Linked DNA regions of Homo sapiens. The protein of the gene in region 1 interacts with the protein of each later gene in a pairwise test. Each region holds a gene or a part of one and is shown in the gene's direction. Other genes may lie near its edges.

Region 1 (7,795 bases):
TTGTGCCTCATTTTCCTCATCTACAAATCTCAGGAGGGTGTTCGGAAGACTAAATGAGCTAATATTTGTAAAGTGTCTTAGAGGAAGCACCATGCTGTTTGTTAAATGAAAAGGCTTGGAACTGTTTTAAAAAACCAAAACCCAGCACATTTTCGGGGGACAATGATAGAGAGTACATACTAAGAAGTATTGATGTGGTCAGGCTCCGTGGCTCATGCCTGTAATCCCAGCACTTTGGGAGGCCTAGGCGGGTGAATCACTTTAGGTCAGGAGTTTAAGACCAGTCTGGCCAACATGGTGAAACCCCGTCTCTACAAAAAATCCAAAAATTAGCCGGGCGCCATGGCATGCGCCTGTAATCCCAGCTACTAGGGAGACTGAGGCAGGAGACTCGCTTGAACCTGCCAGGTGGAGGCTGCAGTGAGCCAAGATTGTGCCACTGCACTCCAGCCTGGATGATGGAGCAAGACTCTGTCTCCAAAAAGAAAAAAATAAAGAAGTAGTGATAAAGACAGGCAAGTATGGTGGGGGGCCAGATTTGAACTGGCAAGAGTTGGGCCCTAACTTTGGAGGTAATGAAGTTACTTTTTTTTTTTTTTTGGTGGAATGGGGATAGAGAATGAAATTACAGGGCCGGGTGCAGTGGCTCATGCCTGTAATGCCAGTACTTTGGGAGGACGAGTGGGAAGATTGCTTGAGGCCAGGAGTTCCAGACCAGCCTGAGCACATAATGAGACATCATCTCTACCATTTTTTTTTTAAATTAGCCAGGCGTGGTGGTATGTGCCTGTGGTTCCAGCTACTCAGGAGGCTGAGATGGGAGGATCACTTGAGCCTAGGAGATCGAGACTGCAGTGAGCAGTGATTGCTCCCGTGCACTCCAGCCTGGATGACAGAGCGAGACCCTATTTCAAAAAAGAAAAAGAAAGAAATTACAAAGATACTCTTTTTTTTTTTTTTTTTTTCTTGAGACGGAGTCTCCCTTTGTCACCCAGGCTGGAGTGCAGTGGCAGTATCTCGGCTCACTGCAACTTCTGCCTCCCAGGTTCAAGCAATTCTCCTGCCTCAGCCTCCCGAGTAGCTGGGATTACAGGCAGATGCCACCGCGCCCTGCTAATTTTTCTATTTTTAGTAGAGACGGGGTTCCACAATGTTGTCCAGGCTGGTCTTGAACTCCTGATCTCAGGTGATCGCCCGCCTCGGCCTCCCAAAGTGCTTGGATTACAGGCATGAGCCACCTCGCCCGGCCTACAAAGACACCCTTCTGTGAAGTTTAACCCAGGAAGTAGTTTTGTTTTTTGGTTTTCTTTAAGAGACAGTCTCATTACGTTGCCCAGGCTGGTCTTGAACTCCTGGGCTCAAGCAATCCTGCTGCCTCAGCCTCTCAAAGTGTTGGGATTACACGTGTGAGCCACTGTGCCAGGCCTAGGAAGTAGTCATTATGTGGTGAAGATGATCCAGGGCTCCCTTACCCATTAAGCAGAGTAGATCAGTGTTCAGAAGTGCAGGCAATGGGTGACATTTTATCTAGAGCTCCTTTGGATAAATATTGAAAATATGGTCAGGCTCTGTGGCTCATGCCTGTAATCCCAGCACTTTGGGAGGCCGAGGAGGGTGGATCACTTTAGGCCAGGGGATAAATATTGAAAGTATCAATTCCAGGCCGGGCACGGTGGCTCATGCCTGTAATCTCAGCACTTTGGGAGGCCAAGGCGGGCGGATCACGAGGTCCGGAGATCGAGACCAGCCTGGCTAACACAGTGAAACCCCGTCTCTACTAAAAATACAAAAAAATTAGCCAGGCGTGGTGGCGGGCGCCTGTAGTCCCAGCTACTTGGGAGGCTGAGGCAGGAGAATGGCGTGAACCTGGGAGGCGGAGCTTGCAGTGAGCCGAGATTGTGTCACTGCACTCCAGCCCGGGTGACAGAGCGAGACTCCATCTCAAAAAAAAAAAAAAAAAGTATCAATTCCAAAGTAAGGTAAAAATTATTTATATTTACTTAACATTTTAACAGCCTTGCATTGATTTTTATTGATATTTGTAAAAACCAATAATCATGGATTGATTAAATACAAAGTTAATTATATCTGATGGCAAAAGAGACTGGAAAACACTGTCAAAATCATGATAATCAGGTACCTATGAAAACAACTGCATGTATTTGAAAGTAATTTAATAATGCACAATTAACACAAAGGGCATTGTACAGTACATTTAATTTTTTTACAATAGGTACAATAAGGTAGTTTTCCTGTCCTTTTAATTAAAAATTATATTTTTATCTTTTTTCAAAAGCAATATATACTCATTGAATTAATTCCAAAAAATATAAGTGGAAATCCCCCAAAGTCTCACCCCACAGAAGTAACAGACACCTTTTATTAGGGCAAGAAGCCCATTTTGAGATATCATATTTTCAGAAATCAAAGTTTCTTCCTTACAAAAGTAGACTCAGTGACAAGTTTTTGCTAGAAGCTTACATTGAAATAATCTTATTATGTACATATGTTTTTTTAATATCTCTCAGGAAGTTAGCATTAATTCTAGCTGTGAATTGGCAAAGGGCAAAGCCCCTTTCTACTTTGTGTACAGGATGTACCTAATTAATAGTTACCCCTCTCCACCTTAAAGCTATTCTGTAGATAAAGATCATCAGGGGCATTAACTTCCAATACAGAGGGGAACGATCCAGCAAACTAGGCATCAGACTAATCAAAACCAAAAATACTGTACAATGATGATTGATACATAATACAATGAAAATTGGTATTCATAAGGATGATTTTGGATTAGCCAACTAAGAGGAAATCCTTATCTGGGTAGTTTTAATGCTGAGTAGTATAATGTAGGGTTTTAGAAATGGGCGACCCACATATATGATAAAAGGGTTAGCTGTAAATATATCTGCTAGCTCAGCTAATAAACTTATTAACTGGAAGATGCCATTCTGAGTAACTTGGACGTCCTTGAGTAGTCACATTCCAATTTGCTTTCAGGTATATCACTGATGCACTGAATTGTTTTTCTCTCAGCAGAAATGGATTTGGTCATGTTTGTCTCTTCCTGCAGCTCAACCTCCCAAATAAGATGGCAGCTCAACTGTGCTGTTTGAATCCCTGACCTTGATGGCATTAGCAATAACTCACGAGTCAGTGCTAGTGACATGTGTCAGTGTTACCTTAGCTTATGAAATATGTAGGGGGAGAGGTAAAGTCTTAAAAGAAACAAATGGGTGCACTTTATCGTATGTAAATTGTACCCCCAGTAAAGTCGATTTCAAACAAATTCTGAACCCGCGAATGACTTTAGGGAGAAGGAATACTGGTCTTGACCAAGATGTGTGTGATGATTAGTAAGCTTTGGGCAGCAGCCCCCTAATACTGTAAGGAGGTTGTGTTCATTTATCATCTTCCAAGCATAATCTAGGCTTCTGGCAAATTAGACCCAACCACTTTGTTCTACATTCAGCTGCAGGGGGAGGTGAACCCTCCTAGGGATTCCCAACTCCCTCTGAAACTCCAGCGTTCTGGAGGGACTTATGGTTATATGGAGGGCTTGGGAATGGAAGGCACTGTGGAGCTTATGCCATTGTCCCAAGATCCTCCACCTGGGCCAGTAATGGCTAGCCCCGTAAACAAAGTCCCCTTTTGCTGGAACTGCCACCACTAGCTTCCCCCCCTTCTCCTAGCCTCTGTGTGGCCCTCTCCCGCGGCGGGCCTTCCCCATTGGCCAGCCAAACACAACCGACTGCGGCAGCCAATAGGAGCCGCTCTCCTGAACATTCAGAGGATGGGTGCGCGTGGTGTGATAAGGGGATGTTGGCGCCTGGTACGCGCCCCCCTACATCTGGCAAGTCTGTAACAGAAACAGTTACACCCCCTACACACGCACACGCGTGCCCGCTGGCTCCCTCCTCTCAGCTGTACAGGCCCCGGACAACCCACTGCGTGTCTTGGCAGCGGCCTCCCAGGCTGCCTGGGGCCCGCGAGTGCACCTGCTCACTCATTAAGACAGAGCATCCCTTTATCCCAAGGCGCGGGTCGGGTAGAGGGTGGGGGTAGAGGGGACGGGGTAGCGGGGACCGGGAAGGCGCGGCTCAGCTGCCCGCTGCTCCCGAGGTGAAAGAGGTGCCTCCGCCCCCACCCCATCCCCGCAGAGTTGCGTTGCTCCAGGGAGGCCGAAGTGATCCAGTGATGTCTTAAGGTGCAGCTCTTTGTCCTCCCCAGCTGTGCTCCCTGCCCGCTGACCCCGTGCGCTCGAGCCAGTGGGGGTGGGGAGCCCGAAACCTATAACATAAACGGGGGCAAGGAGAAAGAAGTCTATCCCGGGGTGGCGTGTGCCGCTGTCCCCACCCCGTCTCTTTCCTCCTGAGGCTTCTTCCCTCGGGTCCGTCCCGGGAATGCAGGCAGGGGAGGGTGTGGGCCGAGGCGCGGCGGCGGCTGGAGCAGCGCGGTAGGGTCCTTCGCCAGAGCATCCGGTCCGAGGGCGCACACAGGCAGAAGGCTCGCGGCTCGTCCACTCTCCTCCCTCTCTCCTCCTCTCCCTGGCTTTTGTGTTGGTGCCTCCGAGCTGCAAGGAGGGTGCGCTGGAGGAGGAGGAGGGGGGCCCGGAGTGAGAGGCACCCCCTTCACGCGCGCGCGCGCACACGGTGCCGGCGCACGCACACACGGGCGGACACACACACACGCGCGCACACACACACGCACAGAGCTCGCTCGCCTCGAGCGCACGAACGTGGACGTTCTCTTTGTGTGGAGCCCTCAAGGGGGGTTGGGGCCCCGGTTCGGTCCGGGGGAGATGGCGCAGCCCATCCTGGGCCATGGGAGCCTGCAGCCCGCCTCGGCCGCTGGCCTGGCGTCCCTGGAGCTCGACTCGTCGCTGGACCAGTACGTGCAGATTCGCATCTTCAAAATAATCGTGATTGGGGACTCCAACGTGGGCAAGACCTGCCTGACCTTCCGCTTCTGCGGGGGTACCTTCCCAGACAAGACTGAAGCCACCATCGGCGTGGACTTCAGGGAGAAGACCGTGGAAATCGAGGGCGAGAAGATCAAGGTGATCCAGGGGGTCAGGTCCAGGAAGGGTGGGACCCGGGAGGGGACCTCGCCCGAGGCATAGCTCTAGCGGTTGTCGTCGTCCAGCGTCCAGCGCGTGGCGGTTTCGCCTCTTGCTGAGCCGAGGACCCTCGGCTCCTCCTCACCCCTTTTCACCTCTCTCAGCGGGGCCCCGTCCCCACTTCACTCAGTTTTTTAGGGCGGTTGAGAATGGGGTTGCATTCTTACCCTTAGCCCCTGCCTGACAGGTCCTGCCAGGAAAAGCATGTTGGATTCCCATCCATGACCCCTACCCCGAGCAGCGGCACCTGTGGGCAGAGGGAGGCAGGAGGCATCTGTGGGTCCTAGTCTCTGGGATGGATCCCAAAGCACTTTACACATCCTGATGTCTCTTCTACTGCTTGGGTGCCGATAGGCTGCAAAACCCCACTTTGGCTAAGCCTCAAGGCGTTAGAGGGAAGGAAATGATGGAAATCCATGGAGAATGAAAAAGCTGCTTTATTTTAAATTGCAGTTTATAGTTAAAAAATTAGGGCTGAGTTGAGATGGCGGTGGAGTGGGGTGGTTCTGGCAGAAAGCCATGAGCCCTTTTAAAGAAATTGAGGCAGGGTCCAGCCCTTCGTAATAGACAAAACTTGTTTTTTTGTAACAGCCCCCCTGGAATGATATCTTCTTTACTTGTCTGGGGCATCTAATACATGAACTGCTCCTTATTCATTCTGTTGGTATTGTCTTCAGGTCTTTGTAAAAATGCAGTGACTTAACCGAGGGCCAGGGGAATGTTCAATCCTCCCCCTCCATGAGTTTATGTAATAGGCTAAGTGCAAATATTCTTGTCTGACCATTTGTGCTCACCTTTAATTCAGAAAAGGTAGAAACCTGATATGACAGGAATATGTCAATGTGCAGGGGATGGCGGGAGGGAGGACATAACAAGGGCAACTTCTTGTGTCATGGGGAGCAGAGGGGGGCCTCTATAAAGGCACTGGGATCACTGAAGACAACTCCTCTAGGCTCACAGCTGGCCTTTCCTTGAGCGTATGGTTGGACCTTAGACAGAGTCAGGGGTGACAGTAAGCCTCCTTCTTGCTGGTCAAACTGCCAAAGTGACCACAAGGCCCCTCCTCTGAGTGACGTGGAGAGAAGGGCTGAGTAACTGATGAAACTGATGAAACACTTGAAACTGTGCGAGACTCCTGACTCCTTGATTATTAAAATGAACGTGTTCTAAAAATGGCTTCAGAAACTAGGCCAACTCACTAGATGTCAGGAAGATGGACAGCTCAGTACTGATAAGGGAGAGCCCCAGGGTAGGAAGATAGAACATTATTTTGAAATCGTGATCTTTTTTGCCCCTTGCATTTTGGAAGGGAAGTGCTACATTTCCTTTTAAAGTCAAAGGCGGTATCTGTCTCTGTCCTTTCCTGGGGCTGTTGACATTTGCTTGGTTAAGACTTCCTCTAGTGTGTCTAGCTTCTTTAATGTAAGGCTATAAGATTCTAGAATTTCTAAAACATGACTTTGTAATCCAAAGTAGAAATATCTTTACAGATGGGCTCTTAAACCTCAAAAACCTAATGCTCCCATTTGCTTAAAATCAAGTGCTACAGTGAGCCAAAGAGTTCCCTGGATTTAAAAGGTGGGAAATAAGTCCATCTGAAATTTAGATGGAAAAAATGAAGTGTTTGGGAATCTAAAGAAGGAGGGAGGAAGAAGCTAGAAAGTGAGGGATGACAGATGAACACGAGTGGAAGAGTCACCACCCAGTGGCCTTGAAGGAATTTTTAAACTATTCCTTCTCTTCTAACACCCCAGTACTTAGCCAAACTGGACTTTACAGTCTCTGGCAAAGATTCCAGACTTTTTCCCAGAGGGCAGAGCCTGTGACAGTGTGACTCACTAGAAACAGAGCTCAGCACAACACCACGTGCAGATAAGTGCTTAATACAGGCTTTTTTGGGGAAGATGATATTTTCAAGGGGACAAAGCCTTGTGACACTGCTCATGGAGGAGTCCTCTGAGGGCAGATTCCAAAGGAGCTCAGAGTGGCGTGTGGGAGTGGGGAGATGGTGACCCTGCTTCTTGTAAAGCTGCTGCAATCTCAGGACCATGCTGGCAGGCGAGAGACCAGCATGTCTGTGGGAAGATGGCAGAGCCTGGCGGCTAGCACGTGATCTAGATAAGAGAAGATTTGGCCTCGCACTCTGGCTAGCCTGAAGTTGTTCAAGGAATACATGCCAAAGCCATGCTTGGAGATGACTGCCAAGGGCTTCGTCCTTTGCGAGAGAGAGAAAAGTCCAGTGTGACAGTCCGAGGTCTGGCCTAGACCATGGCCAGCAATAGAAGGCTTTTGGGCTGTAACATACCAGCCCTTGGAGGAGAGTGGTAGAGAGGTCTCAGCCAGCTCTTCTCAGTCTAAGAGCAAGGGTGTGGCCTCTTCTGGGCTGCCTGCCTGTGTCCCGGGGTAGCACATACATGAACCCCTGCTAGGGACAACTGATTTGGTGTAGTTAGAGCCACACTGTAATTAATTATCAAGGCCATCCCTAGGGTATTGAAGCCCCATTTGCTGTCTCCAATCATTATGTTCCCCACCCTCACCCCATCAAAGCATTTACAATTGAGTCCTGATGAACTCAATTGTATGAACATCAAGAAAAGCCTCCAATGAGTAGGCAATAATAATAATAATAATAACAACTATGTATTGAATAAGCAAAGAGCCCAGGCTAGGCACTTT
Region 2 (7,426 bases), on another chromosome or scaffold:
GAATACCTTTATAGCAGGATTATAATCATGTACTTAACACAGCTTGGCATGTCACACATTTATTACGTCTTCATTTCTTCCTGCACTCCTCGGTCATGCAGTTCTATAACTGCACCACTGAAATACAGCTTCATAACAACTGTAACATGAGAATATGGTTAAAAGACTGACACTATATCTAATAAAATATAAAAGACGTCTTTTCTCGGAGTCCGTAAGGCTCCATGTACTTTCCTACACGTATTTACCCACAGTGTATAAAAGCAGTGGGTCGGGGAGACAGACCTGGGTGTACTCTAGAGTGGCCATCAGACTCTGCGTGTGCTGGTGTTTCCCAATCACACCCTTCCCACAGCGCCAGGTCTCCCCCCTCTCCGAGCCCTAGCTCAGGGCAGTCATCTACAAGAGAGGATGAAGGGAAGGAGGGGCTGCTTCTACCCCGCTTCCCCAGCGTCTCGGGCTCCAGGCAGCAGACCACTTACAGGAGTGATTGCCAGTGTCTCAAAGCAAGTGCCCATCTTAGTTAGAACTAAGACTTTAAATCATTCTTTAAAATCTTCGGCGCTTTCCCTTATTTTCCACATCCCTACTCCCTATGACATTGAGGTTAACATGGAGTTGACTGGATCACATTCTCACACAATTGTACATATTTGTGTCTGGGTATAAAGGATGACTTCTTTCCATTATCCTTTTTTTTTTTTTTTTTTTTTTTAGACGGAGTCTCGCTCTGTTGCCCAGGCTGGAGTGCAGTGGTGCGATCTCGGCTCACTGCAAGCTCTGCCTTCCGGGTTCACGCCATTCTCCTGCCTCAGCCTCCCGAGTAGCTGGGACTACAGGCACCCGCTACCATGCCCAGCTAATTTTTTGTATCTTTTTTAGTAGAGACGGGGTTTCACCATGTTAGCCAGGATGGTCTCAATCTCCTAACCTCGTGATCCGCCTGCCTTGGCCTCCCAAAGTGCTGGGATTACAGGCGTGAGCCACCGCGCCCAGCCAATTGTCTATTTTTAAAGAAGATGTGCTAGTGAAAGGGTTTTCTGGTCCTATGTGGCTAACGTCCAAACTGAAGGTTGATGTTTCCATACGTGATCCAAAGAAATAGAAAATGCTTTCTTCTCCGTTCAGTTTAAATCCACAAAGTGACATTAAACTTCCAGTAGTAATATTAGAAGAAAAAAGAAACATACCTTTGTTTTCCAGTGGTTATTGAGCCTGCTGAGCATAATTACAGAGACATGTGAAGTCACCACTCTGGGAAGCTCATCTTCTCCTGGTATGAGGTGCCTACATGGACCCTTCCCCACACAGCAAACAACTTAGTTCTCAAAGCAGTAGAGAGAAATCACTTCAGGCACAAGGACAGTCTCTAGGCGCATCGTTTTACAAACACTTACCATAACTGATGTCTTTTCCATTTCACAACTCTACATCCTCTCAGGATCGCTGACTATGATGAGGTTCACGACATCCCCATGATCGCCCAGGTCACAGACTGTCTCCCGGAGTTCATCGGCAGAGGCATGGCAATGGCATCCTTCTACCACGCAAGGTGTCTTCAGCTTGGCTTGGGCATCACCAGGGATGAAACAACCGCTAAACACTATTATTCTAAAGTAAGCTTTAGAACAAAATATAAATTCACCCAAAGAGAAACTGCCAGGCTTTTAGCTGCAACTTGAATAGTTTTACGGATTAGTGTTTTTTCTACTCAATTACTGTGCAGATAACCTCTGTCTACAGAGAAGCTGTCAGACATGCAGATTGTTTGCAGACAATTCTGTCAGAATCTTATTAGCATAATTTAGCTCCAATGATTAAAAGTCCTATTTTGATGCAAATTACTCTTTCATTCTGCTACTATCTGCAGCCTAAGGCCCAGCACCAAGACCTTAAAGCTGAACAGTTTTTCTTTCATCTAGAACAAGTGTGAATGTATACGTTCATTCTAGTACAGTAATGAAGTTTTTTATTCTAGTACAGAGTTTAAAGTTTTTTTGAGCGTGACATCTACCCCACTTAGGCGGGATATTTTTGAGTTTGAGGTAATCAGTTAAAATAAGTCTTTCATATTTTAATCCATGTGATCAATTTATTTAGATCCCAAATGCGTTTCACATCTCAAAGTAAATACTAAAAAGCAAGGGGTGTGGTAGTGGAGGGGGTGTAAGGGAGATCATTATGAGTACTAACTCTTAAGTTTAGATTTTTTTTAAAAAAAGAAAAACCAAAAAGCTGTGCACATCTTAGGTCCATCACATCCACGAGTCAGAATTACATCATAGCAGACTTGGTAGAGCAGTGTTTGTGGAACACAGATTGTTCAGCCTGAGTGGGGGAGTCTTCTGAGTCCCTTGGCTGACTCTGATATTACAGCAGTGGTTCCCAAGCTTCTCTGCATGTTAAAATCACCCGAGGATCTTTTACAAATTCCAAAGTTCAGGCCTTATTTCAGAAAATTTCAATCATGGTCTCTAGGAGACAGAAGCGTATTTGTTGAAGTTCCCTGTGGGATTCCAATGTCAGGTAAGTTTGGGAACCCTAAATTACTTTAAAATTAAAACTTCCAGAGCATCAAAGCCATATTAAAACATAAACATAGACACATAGCACACAGCCAAATGCAACTGATCTTTAAGATATTTACCTCTACACCATTCTTAGCATGAATAACAGTTGTCTAACTTTTTTCATTTAAATGTTCTCTGTACTGGCCAGGCACAGTGGTTCATGCCTGTAATCCCAGCACTTCGGGAGGCTGAGGCAGGCAGATCACTTGAGGTCAGGAGTTCGAGACCAGCCTGGCCAACATGGTGAAACTGGGTCTCTACTAAAAATACTAAATAATCCTGTCTCTACTGAAAAATAAAATTAGCCAGGCATGGCAATGTGTGCCTGTAAACCCAGCTACTCGCGAGGCTGAGGCAGGAGAATTGCTTCAACCTGGGAGCAGAGGTTGCAGTGAGCCGAGATCACACCACTGCACTCCAGCCTGGGACTCTGTCTCAAAAAAAAAAAAAAAAAAAAAGCTCTCTGTATTACATCAATTTCCAAACCAAGCCGATTTCAGGTTCTATCCTATCCTTAATATCCTTAGAAAACTCTAGTCAAATATATTTTGAAATATACTATATAGTCATCCTGACTAGAACAACAAAAAAAGTCCAGGTACCGTGGCTCATGCCTGTAATCCCAGCACTTTGGGAGGCCGAGGTGGGAGGATTACCTGAGGCCAAGAGTGTGAGACCAACCTGTCCAATATGGCAAAATCCCATCTCTACTAGAAATACAAAAATTAGCCCATCATGGTAACGCATGTCCATAGTCCCAGCTACTCGGGAGGCTGAGGCATGAGAATCGCTTGAACCTGCAAGGAGGAGGCTGCAGTGAGCCGAGGCTGTGCCGCTGCACTCCAGCCTGGGCAACACAGTGAGACTCCATCTCAAAAAAAAAAAAAAAACAAAACAGATTCCAATCTGAGAACGATTTTCCATACGATGGGAGAAAATAGCCCCATTACTCTGCAACTAGGATACTGTACTCTAGGACTCTAGGATACACATCTAGAATACTGTACTCAGTTTAGGCCATTGTACATTATGGGGATACTGATAAAATGGAGATCATTTAGAGGCAGTAAACCAGTGAAGGGTCTGGAATGATATCATATGACGCATGATATGAGGAACAGAAATGGTCTCCCTCAGAGCAAAAGGACACAAGGTGTCCCGACAGCGGTGTTCACTGGACCGGCAGTGTCCCGCAGGAAGGGAACGGGTTGGGAGGGAGAGGCAGTGTCCCGCAGGAAGGGAACAGGTTGGGAGGGAGCAGAATCAGTGCCCATGGCAGGCAGTGTGTTATGGCAGAAGGTGAGGCAGTAAGATGGTAACTGGGACCTGGAGGCGACAGACCCAGGCCTGCTCTCGGCTCTGCCACCGTCAGGCAGGGTGACTCCCACTTCCTAGAGTGTTAGGTTTCTGTGAAACCAGCATTATGTATTCTGTTAGGACCCTTCGAGGATTCTGGAGTACATGGAGAGAAACACCAGCCTAAAATAAGGGAAAGTTTTCTTTTTTTTGAGACGGAGTCTGGCTCTGTTGCCCAGGCTGGAGTGCAGTGGCGCAATCTCGGCTCTCTGCAAGCTCCGCCTCCCAGGTTCACGCCATTCTCCTGGCTCAGCCTCCCGAGTAGCTGGCACCACAGGCGCCCACCACCACGCCTGGCTAATTTTTGTATTTTTAGTAGAGACGGAGTTTCACTGTGTTAGCCGGGATGGTCTCGATCTCCTGACCTCGTGATCCATCCACCTCGGCCTCCCAAAGTGCTGGGATTACAGGTGTGAGCTACCGCGCCCGGCCATAAGGGAGAGTTTTCTAACACAACAGTTCAGGAAACAAAGAAAAACACAAGTTTTCTCTGAAGGTGAAAACTTCTACATATGTAGAATGTGTAACTTCCTGCTACTGGAAGCAACCAAGCAAATACCTAGTGACCAACTGTCGTGGGTACTGAAGGGACAATTACTGCATAGAATGGGGTTTGGATGAGAGCTCTATATCCCAAATTGTTGACATTCTAGAAATTATGCACCTTGTCACTATTTAGACATAATAAAATTATTTTAGCTGTATATTTTAAAATAAAATTTTACAGATGCTGTTATTCACATAATGAGATCATAACAACTTTGAGGCCAAATGTTAATGCTCTCCATTTTACTTATTTTAATAATTCATAACATACAATGCTATCATTGGTGCTTAAGTTCCCTTTATTCTTGGCATTGATAAAATATCTCTTTCAAATGAGAATAACATGGTTATTTTGAGTATTGATCTATTCTGCATAGGTTAAAGTAGGACATCAGAATAGAAAGTATCTTAACAAATTTTCTTGAAATTCACTGTACTTTACTATTCTTAAAAATGAATCAAAAAAGAAAAAAAAAAAAAGAAGAAAGACCCAAACAATTAGAATGTATCTAAATATCTGACTCTTTTTGATTTTAAGGCTTGTCGTCTGAATCCCGCATTGGCAGATGAACTTCACTCCTTACTTATTCGTCAAAGAATTTAGACCACAATGTATTTCAACAAAGATCATCAATGCTAACACCTCACAATGTGTGTATTTTTACAGTAGCTATGTTTGGTTATTTTGCACATCACAAATTACACTATCCTGGGTATTTTACAGGTGACATGTTACTTCGTTCTTGAATTCGTACGCTGTTAAGTTTTGCAACTTGAAACCTAGACACAAGGTCAAATTGCTGGAAGAGTCCTCAGAGGTCCACCTCTTACCCTACAGACTGGCCGAGACCATATCAAGTATTAAAACCATTCTATACAGCAAGTATCGTTTATCCTTTCTTAAACACCGAGTCTCCAAAAATACTTAGTTTAGCTTTAGTTTAGTAAGTTCAGAAGTAGAAACAAACTTATTTAAAACCATCATTTGAAAGTTTAATTCTTTAAATTTGTCTCTTAGTTTTGTGAATTTTGAATAATAATGTTTAAATTTTGTTTCAGTCATTTAAAATTTAAATTTTCAGTCATTTAAAATTTTAAAAATTTAAAATTTCACAAAACTAAGGGTAAAAGACATTTAAAGAATTAAACTTAAATAAGTGTGTGCAGCATTTCTACTTCTGAAGTTATTAAAGCTAAAACTGCACTAAGCCTTTTGAGACATCCTTTATTCTTAAAAAGCTCATAAATAATTGGCTTATTACATATAAACTTCAAAAAAGTGGGTTATAAGACATTGCTTTAGAATCTTGCCCCTCCAAATCTTCCCTCAAAGATCTTAATGAGTAAAACAACTGCTACATACATATGCAGAATGTGTAATAAAACAAAAAGCAATTGCTATATGAAAATATTCGTAAGAAAAGTAAAGCAAATTGTTTCTTTGTGCTTCAGCTCATTTTCCATATTTTTAAAACCCTGTGGTAAAAGCCTCAATGAAATCATTTACAAGAACTACAATTAAATATTGTTAAAATTAGCAAAAGGCTTTCCGTATATAGATGACATCTATGAAGGCAAAAGGTGACAGTAAAAACAGTAAGATCCATATGCATAAGATTGTACAAGGCTATTCATTTGTGAAACAAATATACATATCGAAGACAGGTCTCAGAGATACCTTAACTATTCCTTTTTTTATAAACATATTAAAGGATGTGGCTTTATTTTATAAATCACAACCATCCCAACAGTGGATTTAAACAAGATTTCTTTTTAGTAATGGGAAAATGCAATTAATATGGAGGTGATAGTCACTAAGAACTGTTGAATGGCAGAAAAGTATTTGCTCTCGTTTTATGTTCTGGCTTGTCTGTATTGCCTGAACTTCATTTTGTCTTTGTGTAAGGGAAGAAATTTCAACAGACTCGGGTTTGAGATATCCTCAAATGGTCATGTATTTCTGTCTCAAATCTCTTAATACCACCCATGTAACATTCCTTCAACCACTTGAAGATCCAAATTCCCAACTAGTATTCTCTTCTCCACACTTAATCCAGTTCCTAAAGATTATTATTATTATTATTATTATTATTTTTTTTTTTTTGAGACGGAGTCTCCTGACCTAATCTTAGCCCGGCGCAGTGGCTCACGTCTGTAATCCCAGCACTTTGGGAGGCTGAGGCGGGCAGATCATGAGGTCAGGAGTTTGAGACCAGGCTGGCCAACGTGGTGAAACCCCGTCTCTACTAAAAATACAAAAATTAGCCGGGCGTGATGGCGGACGCCTGTAGTCCCAGCTACTCGGGAGGCTGAGACAGAAGAACTGCTTGAAACCAGGAGGCAGAGGTTGCAGTGAGCTGAGATCGCGCAAATTGCACTCCAGCCTCGGTGACAAGAGCGAGACTCCATCTCAAAAAAAAATAAAAAGAATCTTAAAATAGGAACATAATAAAAGATCGGCCCTAAGTAAAGAGCACTTTTTAAACTGCCATTAAAGATGGGTTTCAGAAATCATAAACTTTGACGTGTGCCATACATGGTAACATGCTATGCTTATATGTCTTCTATAAATCCAATGCAGAATTTAAAATTTCAGTTTACTCTAGTTACCATAAAGCTAATGCTCTGGCACAAGCGAGTCCCTGCAAACTACCACTGCTGAGGACAGTAGTAAACCCCTTGACCTGAGACTGCGGTGAGTCTGTAACTCGAGTGCATTGAGACTTCCAGATCATTACTCTTACACACACACACACACACACACATACACACACACACACTCCTTCTCTAAGATTCCTTGTAGCTGATATCTCATGGAAAAATGACATTTTATCATAAATAAATATAGAGACAAAATAATAGTGATCTTTCTCATTCGCAATGTAAACTTAACAGCTACAGTTTAAATGATAGCATAGAATTATGCCTAAAATAGACATTTCCCATAATTGTAT
Region 3 (7,000 bases), on another chromosome or scaffold:
ATATACACGAACATATGTAGAAATATCTTCTGGATGGAGTTATTGTAGAAATGTGAGCCATCCCTGAAGATGATAACAGCAGATATTGTACTCCACTCTCAGTACATATTGAATTATTGTTACATATAAAATGTTGGTTTTATATTTAATTTAAAAATATTCATTGCATAATAACTGTGCTTTTACTTATAATAACTGTTCACAGTTTTGGCCTCTAGTTCATACGATGAGTATCTATGTAGAGGGCTATGTAAGAGTTGTACACTAGAGTGACTATTATAGAGTAAAAGAAGCTTGACTGGCCAGACACGGTGGCTTAATGCCTGTAATCCCAGCATATGCCTGTGGTCCCAGCTGTTCGAGAGGCTGAAGTGGGAGGATCACCTTAGCCTGAGGAGGTCGAGGCTTCAGTGAACTCTGAGTGTAGCACTGTACTCCAGCCTGGACAACAGAGAGAGACCCTTTCTCAAAAAAAAAAAAAAAAGATTCAAAGATTTACCTAAACTTTGTTTTAATAAAAAGTACTTCAAAACAAGAAGGAAGCCTTGACATCAAAATTTGAGAAATCCTGTGTGATGTTATTAGCATACTCATTTCTTTTTCTTTAGAGACTTAAAGCAATTTCTTAAAATGTATAAATACTAGCGAAAGATACTCTTTTTGTACATAAACAACAGAGAAGTACACAGAGCAAAACATGGTTTTTATTCATTCTCTTCTATTAACCTCTCTAAAGGAAATTGGGCACCTGTAATCCCAGCACTTTGGGAGGCTGAGGTGGGTGGGTCACTTTGAGGTCAGGAGTTCAAGACCAACCTGGCCAGCATGGTGAAAACCCATCTCTACTAAAAATACAAAAATTAGCCAGGCTGGTGGTGTTCGCCTGTAATCCCAGCTACTCAGGAGGCTGAGGCAGGAGAATTGTTTGAACCTGGGAGGCGGAGGTTGCAGTGAGCTGAGATCGTGCCACTGCATTCCAGCCCAGGGTGACAGAGTGAGACTCTGTCTCAAAAGAAAGAAAATGGGAGAATTAGATATTCTGTTATCCCTTTTCTGTTTTTTTTTTCTTTAACTGTAATTGTAATCATGCTATTAGCATTATTCTGTGACTTCCTTCTTTAAAAAAAAAAGTGGCTGGGTGCGATGGCTCATGTCTGTAATCTCAGGACTTTGGGAGGCTGAGACTGACGGATCACTTGAGGTCAGGAGTTCGAGATCAGCCTGGCCAGCATAGTGAAACCCCATCTCTACTAAAAATACAAAAATTAGCTGGGTGTGGTGCTGCATGCCTGTAGTCCCAGCTACTTGGGAGGCTGACGCAGGAGAATTGTTTGAACCTGGGAGGCAGAGGGTGCAGTGAGCTGAGATCATGCCACTGCACTCCAGTCTGGGAGACACAGAGTGAGACTCTGTCTCAAAAAAAAAAAAAAAAAAAAAAGATATGGCTTGGAGATCTTTCCATTTACATAGACATCTGTATCAGAATTAATAGCTGTGCGATATTTTATGGTATGTATATGGCATAATTTAACCATGCTCCTCTTTTTTTTTTTGAGATGGGGGTCTCACTCTGGAGTGAGACTTGATTTTCAAAAAATCAGGAGTGCATCTTGATTTCAGAAAAAATCAGGAGTGCATCTTGATTTTCCCCAAGACTGCTGAAATGGAGTTTGCCAAATTATGGCCAAAATAGTTAAATTTTAAACTATTTTTAGACTGTATTTCCTTTACTTCACAACTTATGTTGAACCATGTCCTAGCAGTTATAGGCTTATCTGGATGAATCATTATAAAGCTACTTTGTGCGTGTGCTTTTCTCCCCCTGGGAAAAATTGCCTATCTTGGGTGTCCTTGGGTAGTGTATATGATAGGCACCCTGTATTTGCAGGAGATCTGGTCAGTAATAACAAAAATGTATGGCAATTTCATGGTTTTATATTGACCAAATCTCAGAATAAAATACAAGGAAAAGGAAATTCACAATTTTTCATATTTAAAATTAAAATAACTTCTTAGGCTGGGCGTGGTGGTTCATGCCTGTAATCCCAGCCAGCACTTTGGGAGGCCAAGATAGGAGGAACGCTTGAGGCCAGGAATTCAAGACCAGCCTGGTCAACATAGCAAAATGCCATCTCTACTTACTAAAAAAAAAAAAGGCATTATAAAAAATAAAATAACTTTTTATTTGTGCTTGGTTTGTTTAATAAACTTATAAAGATCAATCAGCTAGGGCCACCAGCCTTTATTTTGGTATTGGTAGAGAATGAGTGCAGTCATTTTTCACTTTAATTACCTTACTGCATATTTGATATGAAAGAATGGTCACTGTGTCTTTTTATCATGTGGAAAAAAATAGCAGGATGGGCAACAGGATCCTACTGGCACAGGCTCCAGATCCACTGGGATATGTAGTGGATAAAAGAGGAAAGATCTCTGAATAATTGTATGTTAAGTTAGAAATGTTGAAACTAAATATTTAAAAATAAGTTACTACAGTTTTTTATGTTGACATTGTGTGCATTATGTGTTCTTTTTTTCAGTAAGAAAATCATTTTTGAGTTACAACAAAACCATCTGGGGCCCTTTGGAACTGGTGGAGAAGCTGTACCCCGAAGCAGAGGAAATAGGAGCTAGTGTCCGGGATCTACCTGGTCTGAAGTAAGGAGGCCTATTACTTGTTCATCCCTAGCCACAGAAGTGTATTCATTGTTCCTCCAAAGTACCTCACACTCTAGCTTATTGTCTTCTCTTAGTCTTAAGTCCCCTTCTTCTAATCCTCTTATAATAAAATTATGTTCATTCTTTATGGCTCAACTCAAATCCCATTTCCTTTATGAAGTTTTTCTTAGCCTCTTCGATCAAAATTAACCACTCACCATTCTGCCTTGTATTGTAGGAAATTGAAAGTCCTTTTAAGATAGGATATATCAGTTATGCATCTTTGTTTTCTGAGTGTTAAATTAGTTTGCCTGTAGTAGAAAGTCAGTAAGTATTGAGGAAAGACTGATTTAGGCTGAATCCAGGGCACAGGCTCAGGATATTCCAGTTCTCAGATAAGCCAGTTGTATACCCTAGGACTGGTGTACATTTCTTTGCTTCCTCTGAAAATTGGTACCTATAATGTCACCAGCCTGTTTCATCAGACAAATGTATGTAAAATGTCTTAAAAGTTGGAGTATGTTAGCTAAGAATACTTTCATGAGTATTTAAAATTTTTTGTAGGTGTAAAGTGTTAAGACTCAGTTCTTAAATTCTTTTTTTCTTTGAGACGGAGTCTCGCTCTGTCGCCCAGGCTGGAGTGCAGTGGCACGATCTCGGCTCACTGCAAGCTCCACCTCCCGGGTTCACCCCATTCTCCTGCCTCAGCCTCCCGAGTAGCTGGGACTACAGGCGCCCGCCACCACGCCCGGCTAATTTTTTTGTATTTTTAGTAGAGATCGGGTTTCACCATGTTAGCTAGAATGGTCTCGATCTCCTGACCTCGTGATCCGCCTGCCTCAGCCTCCTAAAGTGCTGGGATTACAGGCGTGAGCCACCGCGCCAAGCCTATATTCTTTTTTTTTTTAGTTTTCTTTTTAATTTTTATTTTCTTTATTTTTTTTGAGATGGAGTCTTGCTGTGTTGCCCAGGCTGGAGTGTAGTGGTGCGATTTCAGCTCACTGCAACCTCCGCCTCATGGGTTCAAGCAACTTTCCTGCCTCAGCCTCCCGAGTAGCTGGGATTACAGGTGCATGCCACCATGCCTGGCTGATTTTTTGTATTTTTAGTAGAGACGGGGTTTCACCATGTTAGCCAGGATGGTCTTGATCTCCTGACCTTGTGATCCGCCCGCCTTGGCCTCCCAAAGTGCTGGGATTACAGGCGTGAGCCACCGTGCCTGACCAGTTCTTATATTCTTTAGAGTGTAATTAAAATGTAAGTGTTCTCTTTTGTTTGTCTTTGTTTATTTTATTTTATTTTGAGACGGACAGTCTCACCCTGTTGCCCAGACTGGAGTGCAGTGGTGCAATCTCGGCTCACTGCAACCTCTGCCTCCCAGGTTCAAGTGATTCTCGTGCCTCAGCCTCCCAAGTAGCTGGGATTACAGGCATGTGCCACCATCCATACCTGGCTAATTTTCGTATTTTTAGTAGAGATGGGGGTTTTGCCATATTGACCAGGCTGGTCTTGAACTCCTGTCCTCAATAGTGATGGAATTGGCCCAGCGCAGTGGCTCAGGCCTGTAATCCCAGCACTTTGGGAGGCCGAGGTGGGCGGATCACCTGAGGTTGGGAGTTCGAGACCAGCCTGACCAAAATGGAGAAAGCCTGTCTTTACTAAAAATACAAAATTAGCCGGTGTGGTGGCACATGCCTGTAATCCCAGCTACTTGGGAGGCTGAGGCAGGAGAATTGCTTGAACCCGGGAGGCAGAGGTTGCAGTGAGCTGAGATCACGCCATTGCACTCAAGCCTGGGCAATAAGAGAGAAACTCTGTCTCAAAAAAAGTGCTGGTATTACAGGCGTGAGCCACAGCGCCCAGCCTCCCTTTAGTTTATCTTAATTCTTGTTAATGAGATAACTTTTTTTGCATTAAGCATTTTCTGTAAGGTTAATCGTTTGTTTTCTCATAGTTTTACAACTTAGGGTTTATATATGTTGTGGGGAATATGGTAGTGTTTTGCTGTTATTTTGTTGTTGAATGTTCAAATGTTCAAATGTTTGTAAATTGGAATTTATTGAGTGATAAAAGTAAGTGGCTACTGTTGAGCACTGTGTTAGAGTAATAAGGTACCTGTTTTACATGAATTATCTCCTTTAGTGCTTAAATCAGTCTTACAGGTAGAGGTTATTATTATAATTGTATAGATGTGAAAAATAAATGCCAGATAAATTATAGTTAAAAAGTGGCAGAGGCAGGATTTAAACCCAGTTTTTAGAGTTAAATATAAAGTGGCTGGGTGTGGTGGCTCACGCCTATAATCCCAGAACTTTGGAGGCTGAGATGGGTGGATTGCCTGAGCCCAAGAGTTCGAGACCAGCCTGGGCAACATGGCGAAACCACATGTCTACTAAAAATACAAAAAAATTAGCTGGGTGTGGTGGTGCACGCCTATAGTCCCAGCTACTCGGGAGGCTGAGGCAGGATAATTGCTTGAACCCAGGAGGCAGAAGTTGCAGTGAGCCAAGGTCGTATCACTACACTCCAGCCTGGGTGACAGAGTGAGACTTTGTCTCCCCCACCAAAAAAAATTGGAAAAAAAAAAAAATCAAATGATATTTGTTCACAATTGATATTTTTGGTATATCAGGTGTAAAGATTTTTAACAAAGAGGAAAAACAGAATTTCAACTCTCAAAAACAAAAATGTAAGATTTGATTCATTTTAATATGAAAATATGTATTCATATTTTGTTAAAAAGCCAGACTCTACAATAGTAAAACCTGTTTTCTGATGGTGTTCATTAAAATGCTAAGCTATAAGAAATGCGTTAATTATTAGAAGTGAAGATCAAGTCTCTTCCTGTACTATCTGCCAAAATGTTCTCTGCATAAGAAAATATAAAAGTGTGAATGATACCACTCTCTTTAAAAAAAAAAAGTGGTATAAAAGTTGCTTTTTAAAAAAATTATTATTATATTTTATGGAGACTGAGTCTGTCTCTGTTGCCCAGGCTGGAGTGCAGTGGCGGGATCTTGGCTCGTTGCAACCTCCACCTCCTGGGTTCAAGCGATTCTCCTGCCTCCGCCTCTCGAGTAGCTGGGATTACGGGCTCATGCCACTGTGCCTGGCTAATTTTTGTATTTTTAGTGGAGACGGGGTTTCACCATGTTGGCCAGGCTGGTCATGAACTCCTGACCTCAAGTGATCCACCCGCCTTGGCCTCCCAAAGTGCTGGGATTACAGGCGTGAGCCACCACGCCAGGCCACTTTTATTTTTAATAACAGATAGAACTTGGGTAAGAGAGGTATGAGATTTAATTTCTTAAATGCAACCAAATTAAAGAAACATTTGAAAACCAGTAAGCAGCACAGTGATTTCTCTTTAATTACTAGCCTGGCACCCTCTTAGCTTTGTTATGATTTTTAAAATTCAGATATAATGTTACCTATGTTTTTGAAGGCATTATGGTGCCTTATTGTAGAATTTTTTTTTTTTTTTTTTTTTTTTGAGAACAAATCTTACCTTGTTGCCCAGGCTGGAGTGCGATGGTGCAATCTTGCCTGACTGTACCCTCCGCCTCCCGGGTTCCAGTGATTCTCCTGCCTCAGCCTCCTGAATAGCTGGGATTACAGACACCCACCACCAAGCCCAGCTATTTTTTGTGTTTTTAGTAGAGACGGGGTTTCACCATGTTGGCTAGGCTTCTTTCGAACTCCTGACCTTGTGATCCGCTCGCCTCGGCCTCCCAAAGTGCTGGGATTACAGGTGTAAGCCACTGGGCCCGGCCTGGTGAAGTTTTAATATTTATTTTTAGAGGGCTAAGCTCATTCAGACTAAATATTTCTTTTTTTTTTCTGAGACAGGGTCTCACTCTATCACCCAGGCTTGAGTACAGTGATGCAATCACTGTTCACTGCAGCCTCTGCCTACTGGGCTTAAGCAACCTCCTGTCTCAGCCTCCTGAGTAGCTGGGAATACAGGCACATGCCACCACACCTGGCATTTTGATTTTTTTTCACTTTTTTAATTTTTTTTATTTTTAAATTTAATTAATTTATTTTTTTTATATAGAGACAGGGTCTCCCTATGTTGTCCAGGCTGTTCTCTAACTCCTGGATTCAAGTGATCCTCCCACCTTGACCTCTCAAAGTGTAGGGATGACAGGTGTCAGCCACCGTGCCCACCTAAATATTTCTTATAGAAGTATTCTCACCAGAGTCCTGGGCTGCATAACATTTCATTAAATGATGGTGGTTCCAAAAGATTATAATACTGTATTTTGACTTTACCATTTCCATGTTTAGCTGTGTTTAGATACACAAATAGTTAACAATTGGTTAATAATTGCCTACAGCA
Region 4 (7,426 bases), on another chromosome or scaffold:
ACTACAGGATTCTTTTTCTCTTATTCCATACTTATATCTCCCTTCTCCTGTGGTGAGAACCCTGATTCCCAGCAGCATCAATGTATTTACTTATTTATTTGATCCTAGAATACACACAAATATTTTCTGAATTGCTACATCAGTGCCTACCAAGAACAAACCTATTAAGTAAAGTTCCAAATGACTTATTTCCAGTTCTTTTTGTCTTTTAACTATGTTCCACAAAAGATGTAGGCAGAGTAGTGTGTTCCAAAGGTACTTAGATTAGTGCTTGTTTTTAAAATCAGTATAATGAAATTATCTGTTTTATATATAGTTAAGCTGATTTATGTCTGCTTTATTCCATTATAGGGATTTTCCCCCCATCTTCATTGACCTCCTCAGGGTTTTATTTTTTATTTTATTTTATTTTTTTGAGGTGGAGTCTAGTTCTGTCACCCAGGCTGGAGTACAGTGTGACTGTTCAAGCAATTCTTCTGCCTCAGCTTCCCGAGTAACTGGGATTACAGGTGTGCACCACCACACCCAGCTAATTTTTGCGTTTTTTTGTTTTGTTTTTTGAGACGGAGTCTTGCTCTGTCACCCAGGCTGGAGTGCAGTGGCGCGATCTCGGCTCACTGCAAGCTCTACCTCCCGGGTTCACGCCATTCTCCTGCCTCAGCCTCCCGAGTAGCTGGGACTACAGGTGCCCACCACCACGCCTGGCAATTTTTTTTTTTTGTATTTTAGTAGAGATGGGGTTTCACCATGTTAGCCAGGATGGTCTCGATCTCCTGACCTCGTGATCCACCTGCCTTGGCCTCCCAAAGTGCTGGGATTACAGGCGTGAGCCACTGCACCCAGCCAATTTTTGCGTTTTTAATAGAGACAGGGTTTTGCTGTTGGCCAGGCTGGTGTCGAACTCCTGACCTCAAGTGATGGGATTACAGGTGTGAGCTACCGCACCTAGCCACCCTCAGAGTTTTAGAGTGAGCTTGGCATCACTATAAATGCACAGTTATCAAACCTTAACCGAACCTCAGAACTGCCCAGAAACCCTGTTGCATTTAATAGTATCTAATCAGCAATACCCTCTTTGAACCTATTCCAGTCCTCACAGACTTTCAAACCACTGGCCTCCACATTCTGGCCACTCCTCATTTCTCCTCCCCTCTTCCATGCAGCTTCTGTGTGAGGAGGTCTTTTACATATTCCCCTCCTGCATGCCACCCTCCAGTGTATTTCCCACGCAGCAGTTGGACCAGTCTTTCAGACATAGATCAGATCATAGTTAACAACTCTGGCTTAAAACCCTTCAGTGATGCTGCTTCACACCCATTACGATGGGTAGTATCAGAATAACCAGAAAATAAACAAGCGTTGTCAAGGATGTGGAGAAATTGGAACTCTTGTGCACTCTTGGGAATGTAAAATGGTGCAGCCACTATGGAAAACAATATGACAGTTCTTCAAAAAATTACCGTATAATCCTGCATGTCCACTTCCGGGCATATACCCAAAAGAATTGAAAGTAGGTCTTGAAAAGATATTTGTACACCCATGTTCGTAGAAGCATTATTCACAGTAGCCAAAAGGTGAAAGCAGCTTGGCTGTCCATTGATAAGATGAATGGATGAACAAAATTTGGTATGTAAATACAGTAGAATATTATTCGGCTTTAAAAAGGAAGGAAATTCTGGCCCGTGCTACAACATGGATGAACCTTGAAGACATTATACTAAATTAAATAAGCCATTCACAAAAGGACAAATTCTGTGTGATTCTATTAAAAGTACCTAGATTAGTCAAATTTGTAGAGACAGACAGTGGATGGTGGTTGCCAGATACTGGGGCAAGAGGGGAATAGGAAGGGGAGTTAGTGATTAATGGGTACAGAGTTTGTTTTGCAAAATGAAAAGAGATCTGGAGATGGATGGTAGGTGATTGCACAACAGTGTTAATGTACTTAACAGTACTGAACACTTAAAAATGGTTAAGATGGTAAATTTTATGCATATTTTACCACAGTTAAAAGTCTTTAGGGAATACTCATTGCTGTTAGGATAAAGAGCACAATCCTTGATGAGGCCTTAAAGCATTCACCCCTTCAATCTCACCTTGTACTGCCTTCCCCGCATCCCTGTGCTTCAGCCACAGTGTCATTCTTCTGCCCTCTTCAGACCTCTTCCCTCTGTCTAAAGTGCTCTCCCTGACCTCACGTAGCCAACTCCTGTTTATCTTTTGGTTACCGATTTAAACGTCAGTTCCTTAGAGAAGCTTCCTCTGGCCCCCAGGCTTACAGCTTCAAAACATTTTAGTAAAATGTTTTTTTTGGAGTCAGGTTTCCCTCTGTTGCCCAGGCAGGCTGGAGTACAGTGGCACAATCAGCTCACTTATAAACAGGCCAAGCAGCCTCAACCTACTGGGCTCAAGTGACCCTCCCACCTGAGCCTCCCAAATAATTGGGTCTACAGGCATGTGCCACCATGCCCAGCCAGTTTTTTATTTTTTGTAGAGATGAGGTCTTTGCTGTGTTGCCCTGGATCAAAACATCATTTTTTAAGCATTTAATCCATCAGATATTTTACATTTACCTTCTTAGGGTTGGTCTTCCCTCCTTGCCTGTGATCTCCTTGAGGGCAGGGTTTGGGTGTCTTCTGCATGCAATAGACAAAGGGAGGGAAGGGGAAGTGAGCCAGGCCTGGCCGGCAGAATGCTGCGCCTCTGAGGAAAGGGGGAAGTGAGCCAGGCCTGGCCGGCAGAATGCCGCGCCTCTGGGTGTTGCACACTCCCTGACACCCTGGCCCCTCTTAGTGGGTAAGGGAGGGACATTTGGAGTGTGGTCTCTTGACTTCTTCACTCTGGACTTCCACTGGGAGAGAAATTGACAAAACCTGTGGAAGAACCTAGGAATTATACTGGCCATTCATGCTCATTAGAGCATTCCGTCTGTTCAGCAATACTGAAAGAGAATTGTGATCCTGTCTCTATTTGTTTTTTAAGTACATTTGTTTGAGGGGTTTGTGTGTGAGGGAGGGGATATGTGTTGTGTTTTGTTTTGTTTTTTGATTACTGTGAAATGAGGGACACAATAGTACTACCTCAGGGTTTTTCTGAGAATGGAATGAGATGTCAGCACATAGAGTGCTTAGCGCTTAGTCCAGCTCTTAGTAAAATACACAAAGGGGAAAAAAATGTGATCACCAGGAGTCATCTCCGTGGAAATGGGCGGTGAAAGCTGAGGTATGGCTCTGCCTCCTGATCAGAGGCCCTGTCTCCCTCCTATGCCTTTCAGCCATAGCTTCCTCCATGTAGCCCTCTTTATTAGGTCATTGTGGCATGTCTTGCCTCTTCCAGCAATTTGTGCTCCTCAGTGAGCAAACTGTGATTTGCTAAGAAATATAAACCTATTGTGTTCCATTCTGCTGTACCCTTTCTGTGTCGGATGAGATGGTAGGCTGTCTTTTGCCACAACCAAAATGGCAGTTGTTCTTTCAAGGCTTAGAAATTGTGTGAGAACTTCTCCTTCAGGACCTGGTGGTTTTTTAATCAGGCCTGAATTTTACACATGCCTAGGGAGATCAGAGGCCTCCCTCTGATCTGATTAAAAGGAAAGAAGACTTGAATTTACCCTCCCACCCAGCTTGGGCAGGCAAGCAGCTCATTTTTTACCCATGGATGTCCAATGGCCCCAACATCATTTGTTATTCCTTCATTGAATTACTTTTGAAACTTTGTCAAAAATCAGTTGTCTGTACATCTGTGGATCTATCTCTGGATCCCTTGTTCTTTTCCATTGATCTCTATGTCTCTTCCTCTGTCAATATTACTCTATCAGTATTGATTATTGTAGGCCTTAATATTGAGTAGAATAATTCCTCCCACTTTTTCTTCGTCAAGGTAGTTGTAGCTATTCTAGGTTCTGTGCCTTTTCTTTTTTTTCTTTTTTCTTTCTTTTTTTTTTTCTTTGTTTGAGACAGAGTCTCACTGTGTCTCAAAAAGGCTCAGGCTGGAGTGCAGTGGTGTGATCTTGGCTCACTTCAACCTCTGCCTCCGGGGTTCAAGTGATTCTCCTGCCTCAACCTTCTGAGTAGCTGGGACTACAGATGCGTGCCACCATGCCTGGCTAATTTTTTGTATTTTTAGTAGAGACGGGGTTTTACCATGTTAGCCAGGATGGTCTCGATCTCCTGACCTCGTGACCCACCCATCTTAGCCTCCCAAAGTGCTGGGATTACAGACGTGAGCCACCGCACCTGGCCTCTGTGCCTTTTCATATAAACTTTAGAGTAAGCTTGTGTATATCTATGAAAAACCTTGCTAGGATTTTGATAGGAGTTGCATTAAACCTATAGATTAGTTTGGGGAGAATTGACATTCTTGCTATGAACATGATATATCTTATCTCTCCATTTATTAATATTTAGGTTTTATTTGATTTCCATCAGTATCATTTGTAATTTTCAACATATAGATCCTGTACATAGCTTGTTATTTGTTTAAAGCAGAAAGGGAGATGATTATGAATGGCATATTCTGTCCTTTGTTTTGGTTTTCAAATGTTCATTGTTAGTGTGTAGAAATGTAGTTGATTTTCCTGTGTTGAACTCTTCTATCCTGTCACCTTGCTGAATTCAAGGTGTTTAGGGTTTTTTTGTTTTTTTTTTTTTTTGGTAGATTCCTTGGGAATTTCAGGGTAGACTATCATGTCATTTGCAAATAGGGACAGTTTTATTCCTTACTTGCTAATATGAATGCCTTTTGTTTTTCTTGCCTTATTGCAGTGGTCAGGATGTCCAATATTATGTTAAATAAGAGTGATGAGAAAGAATATGCTTTCCTCGTTCCCAATCTTAGGAGCAAAGCATTCAGTCTTTCACAGTAAAGTATATTGTTAGGGGTAGGTTTTTTGTAAATGTTCTTTATCAGGTTAAAGAAGTTCCCCTTTATTCTTAGTTTGTTGAGAGTTTTTAATCTTGAATGGATTTATCATGTTGGATTTTGTCAAAAGCTTTTTTCTGTATCAATTGATATGATCATATGATTTTTCTTCCATAGCTTATTGATATGGTAGATTACGTTGATTGATTTGTGACTATTAACCAGTCTTGCATGCCTAGAACAAATCATACTTGGTCATGGCATATAGTTCTTTTTATACATTTTTAAATTCAATTTGCTCATATTTTGTTGAGGATTTTTTTTGTGTGTAAGTTCATAGGATATACTAGTCTATATATGTGTATATATATATATATTTTTTTTTTTTTTTTGGTGTAGTCTTTGCCTGGTTTTGATACCAGAGTAATACTGGTCTCATGAAATGGATTGGAACGTATTCCCTCCTCATATATTTTCTAGAAGTGACTGTAAAATTGGTGTTAATTCTTCTTTGAATGTTTGGTAGAATTCTTCCTGAAATCATCTGAGCCTGGAGATTTTTGGTTTTTGTTTTTTTATTTTATTTTTTTAGAATGTTAAGTGTAATTCAGTTTCTTTAATGGAACTATTCAGATTATCTATTTCATTTTGGCTGAGTTGTAGTTTATGGTTTTTAAGAATTGGTCTATTCTGAGTTGTTGGATTAAGTTGTTCTTAGTATTCTCTTATTATCCTTTCAGTGGCTACAGATCTATTGTAATATCTCCTGTTTCGTTCTTGTTATTGGTGACTGTGTCCTCTCTTTGTATTTGTCAGTCTCGCCAGGAGTTGGTCAGTTTTATTCTTTTTTTTTGAAGAATTGACTTTGTTTCATTTTCTCTCTTGTTTTTCTTTTTTATTGACTTCTGTTCTTACCTTTATTACTTCTGCTTGCTTTGAGTTAATTTGCTCTTCTTTTTCTAGGTTCTTTAGGTCAGAATTTTGGTTATTGATTTGAATTCCTTCCTCTATTTTGATGTAAGCATTTAGTGCTATGAGGTTTCTTCTCAGCAATCCTTTAGTTATATCCCACATATTTTCGTATGTTTTTATTTTCATTTTAATTCAGTGCTATATATTTCTTTTTTGTGACTTTGATCCAAGGATTTTCTAGAAGTATGTTGCTTAATTTTCATGTATTTAGAGAGTTAACTTTTTGTTTTGATTTCTGTTATGATTCCATATGGTTGGAGAACATACTTTATATGATTTCAGTTATTTTACATTTGTGAGCTTTGCTTTATGGGCCAGGATGTGGTTCATTTTAAAATACCAGTGTTTTAGGAAGCCTGGAGTCCTGCCCACTCTGTTACCTCAGCCTGCCTCCACACCTCAGCTGTGGCTCACGTCACTTGTCTCTCACAGGCATAGAAAAAGAGGCCCAGGCAGGATGGGACAGGTGGTAGGGGCAGCCTTCCGAGGACCCCTGAGTTAGTGACAGAACTGGACCTTGAACCCCCAGAGCTCTGCCTGCCTGGAACAGGAACCTGGTTCATCCTCCCCATGGAGCCTTTGCCTTCCATGACCCTTCCCATGACACGTGATGAACACACAATGAAGCTGAGGGAGGGGTGAGGCGGGTGAGGACAGAGGAGTAGCCAATCCAGGCCCTGTGCCCCTACACCCTCACCTCTTTCTAATGGGGTGGTAAACAAGGAGGGGCAACTCAGATGCCTAAGAAGCTTGGGCCCAAATCTCAGAGACAGCGTGGGGCTGTTGCCCCCCTCACCCAGGTCCAGCAGGCGGCCTGTTCCCCCACTTATAAACAGGCCAAGCGCAATGCCAGGAGCTATCAGGGCCGCCGCCGCCGCCGTCGTTGCAGCCAGAATACCACTTCCAGGGTTCCTAGCCAACTGCAAGCAGTTGACTCTTCATCTGCTTCCTGCAGGACCTACAAGAACAGTGAGGAGCTTCGGTCTCGTATTGTGTCTGGAATCATCACACCTATCCATGAGCAGTGGGAAAAGGCTAATGTAAGCAGTCCCCACCGGGAGTTCCCCCCTGCTACCGCCAGAGAGGTGGACCCACTCCGGATTCCTCCACACCACCCACACACCAGTCGGCAGCCTCCCTGGTGAGTACAGAGTGCCTAGCGGGAAGCCCATGCTTCTGTAGAGGGATTCCAGCCAGCTATCCCCATCCTGCCACTTGACCCCATCCCTGGCCCGTATGTGTTTTCAACAAAATGATCAGTGTCTTGGGGTGCATGGAGTTAGAAAGTGGAGACGTAAGTGGAGCAGTGAGTTCTTGAACTGCTACTAGTCACCCTAATTACCCAAAATCCTAAGCCTGCCTGATTTCTTTCTAGGGGCCACACAGAGCCCCTGAGTCTGTCCAAGGATCAGTGCCTCTGGGGCTTATGTGCAGTAGTCTAAGGTTGCTGCCCAGGTAATTCACAGCTAATTCATTCCAGAGCTTTTTGTCTAGACAGGGCCCTGGGCCAGTCTTTCTGAGAAAATGTAAACATGTAGAGGTACTAGCCCAGAGGAGATGCAGTCCCAGTGTCTTGCCCATTTCATTTCATTGT

What was found.
Region 2: the proteins of RAB33A (region 1) and LRP2BP interact in binary tests that used the Homo sapiens proteins (3 or more experiments, as listed by UniProt).
Region 3: the proteins of RAB33A (region 1) and RUFY2 interact in binary tests that used the Homo sapiens proteins (3 or more experiments, as listed by UniProt).
Region 4: the proteins of RAB33A (region 1) and PSMF1 interact in binary tests that used the Homo sapiens proteins (3 or more experiments, as listed by UniProt).

What each region holds. Positions count from the first base shown.
Region 1 is NC_000023.11:130,167,265-130,175,059, forward strand, and holds the start of RAB33A (ras-related protein Rab-33A), read left to right. Parts: upstream 1-4,697; 5' UTR 4,698-4,798; coding exon 4,799-5,056; intron 5,057-7,795.
Region 2 is NC_000004.12:185,364,830-185,372,255, reverse strand, and holds part of LRP2BP (LRP2-binding protein), read left to right. Parts: intron 1-1,190; exon of another isoform or gene 1,191-1,298; intron 1,299-1,397; exon of another isoform or gene 1,398-1,441; coding exon 1,442-1,616; exon of another isoform or gene 1,617-1,621; intron 1,622-2,070; exon of another isoform or gene 2,071-2,461; coding exon of another isoform or gene 2,462-2,506; intron 2,507-5,010; coding exon 5,011-5,076; 3' UTR 5,077-7,426. UniProt on the Homo sapiens protein: May act as an adapter that regulates LRP2 function.
Region 3 is NC_000010.11:68,397,278-68,404,277, reverse strand, and holds part of RUFY2 (RUN and FYVE domain-containing protein 2), read left to right. Parts: intron 1-2,540; coding exon 2,541-2,658; intron 2,659-7,000.
Region 4 is NC_000020.11:1,128,334-1,135,759, forward strand, and holds part of PSMF1 (proteasome inhibitor PI31 subunit), read left to right. Parts: intron 1-6,787; coding exon 6,788-6,973; intron 6,974-7,426. UniProt on the Homo sapiens protein: Plays an important role in control of proteasome function. Inhibits the hydrolysis of protein and peptide substrates by the 20S proteasome. Also inhibits the activation of the proteasome by the proteasome regulatory proteins PA700 and PA28.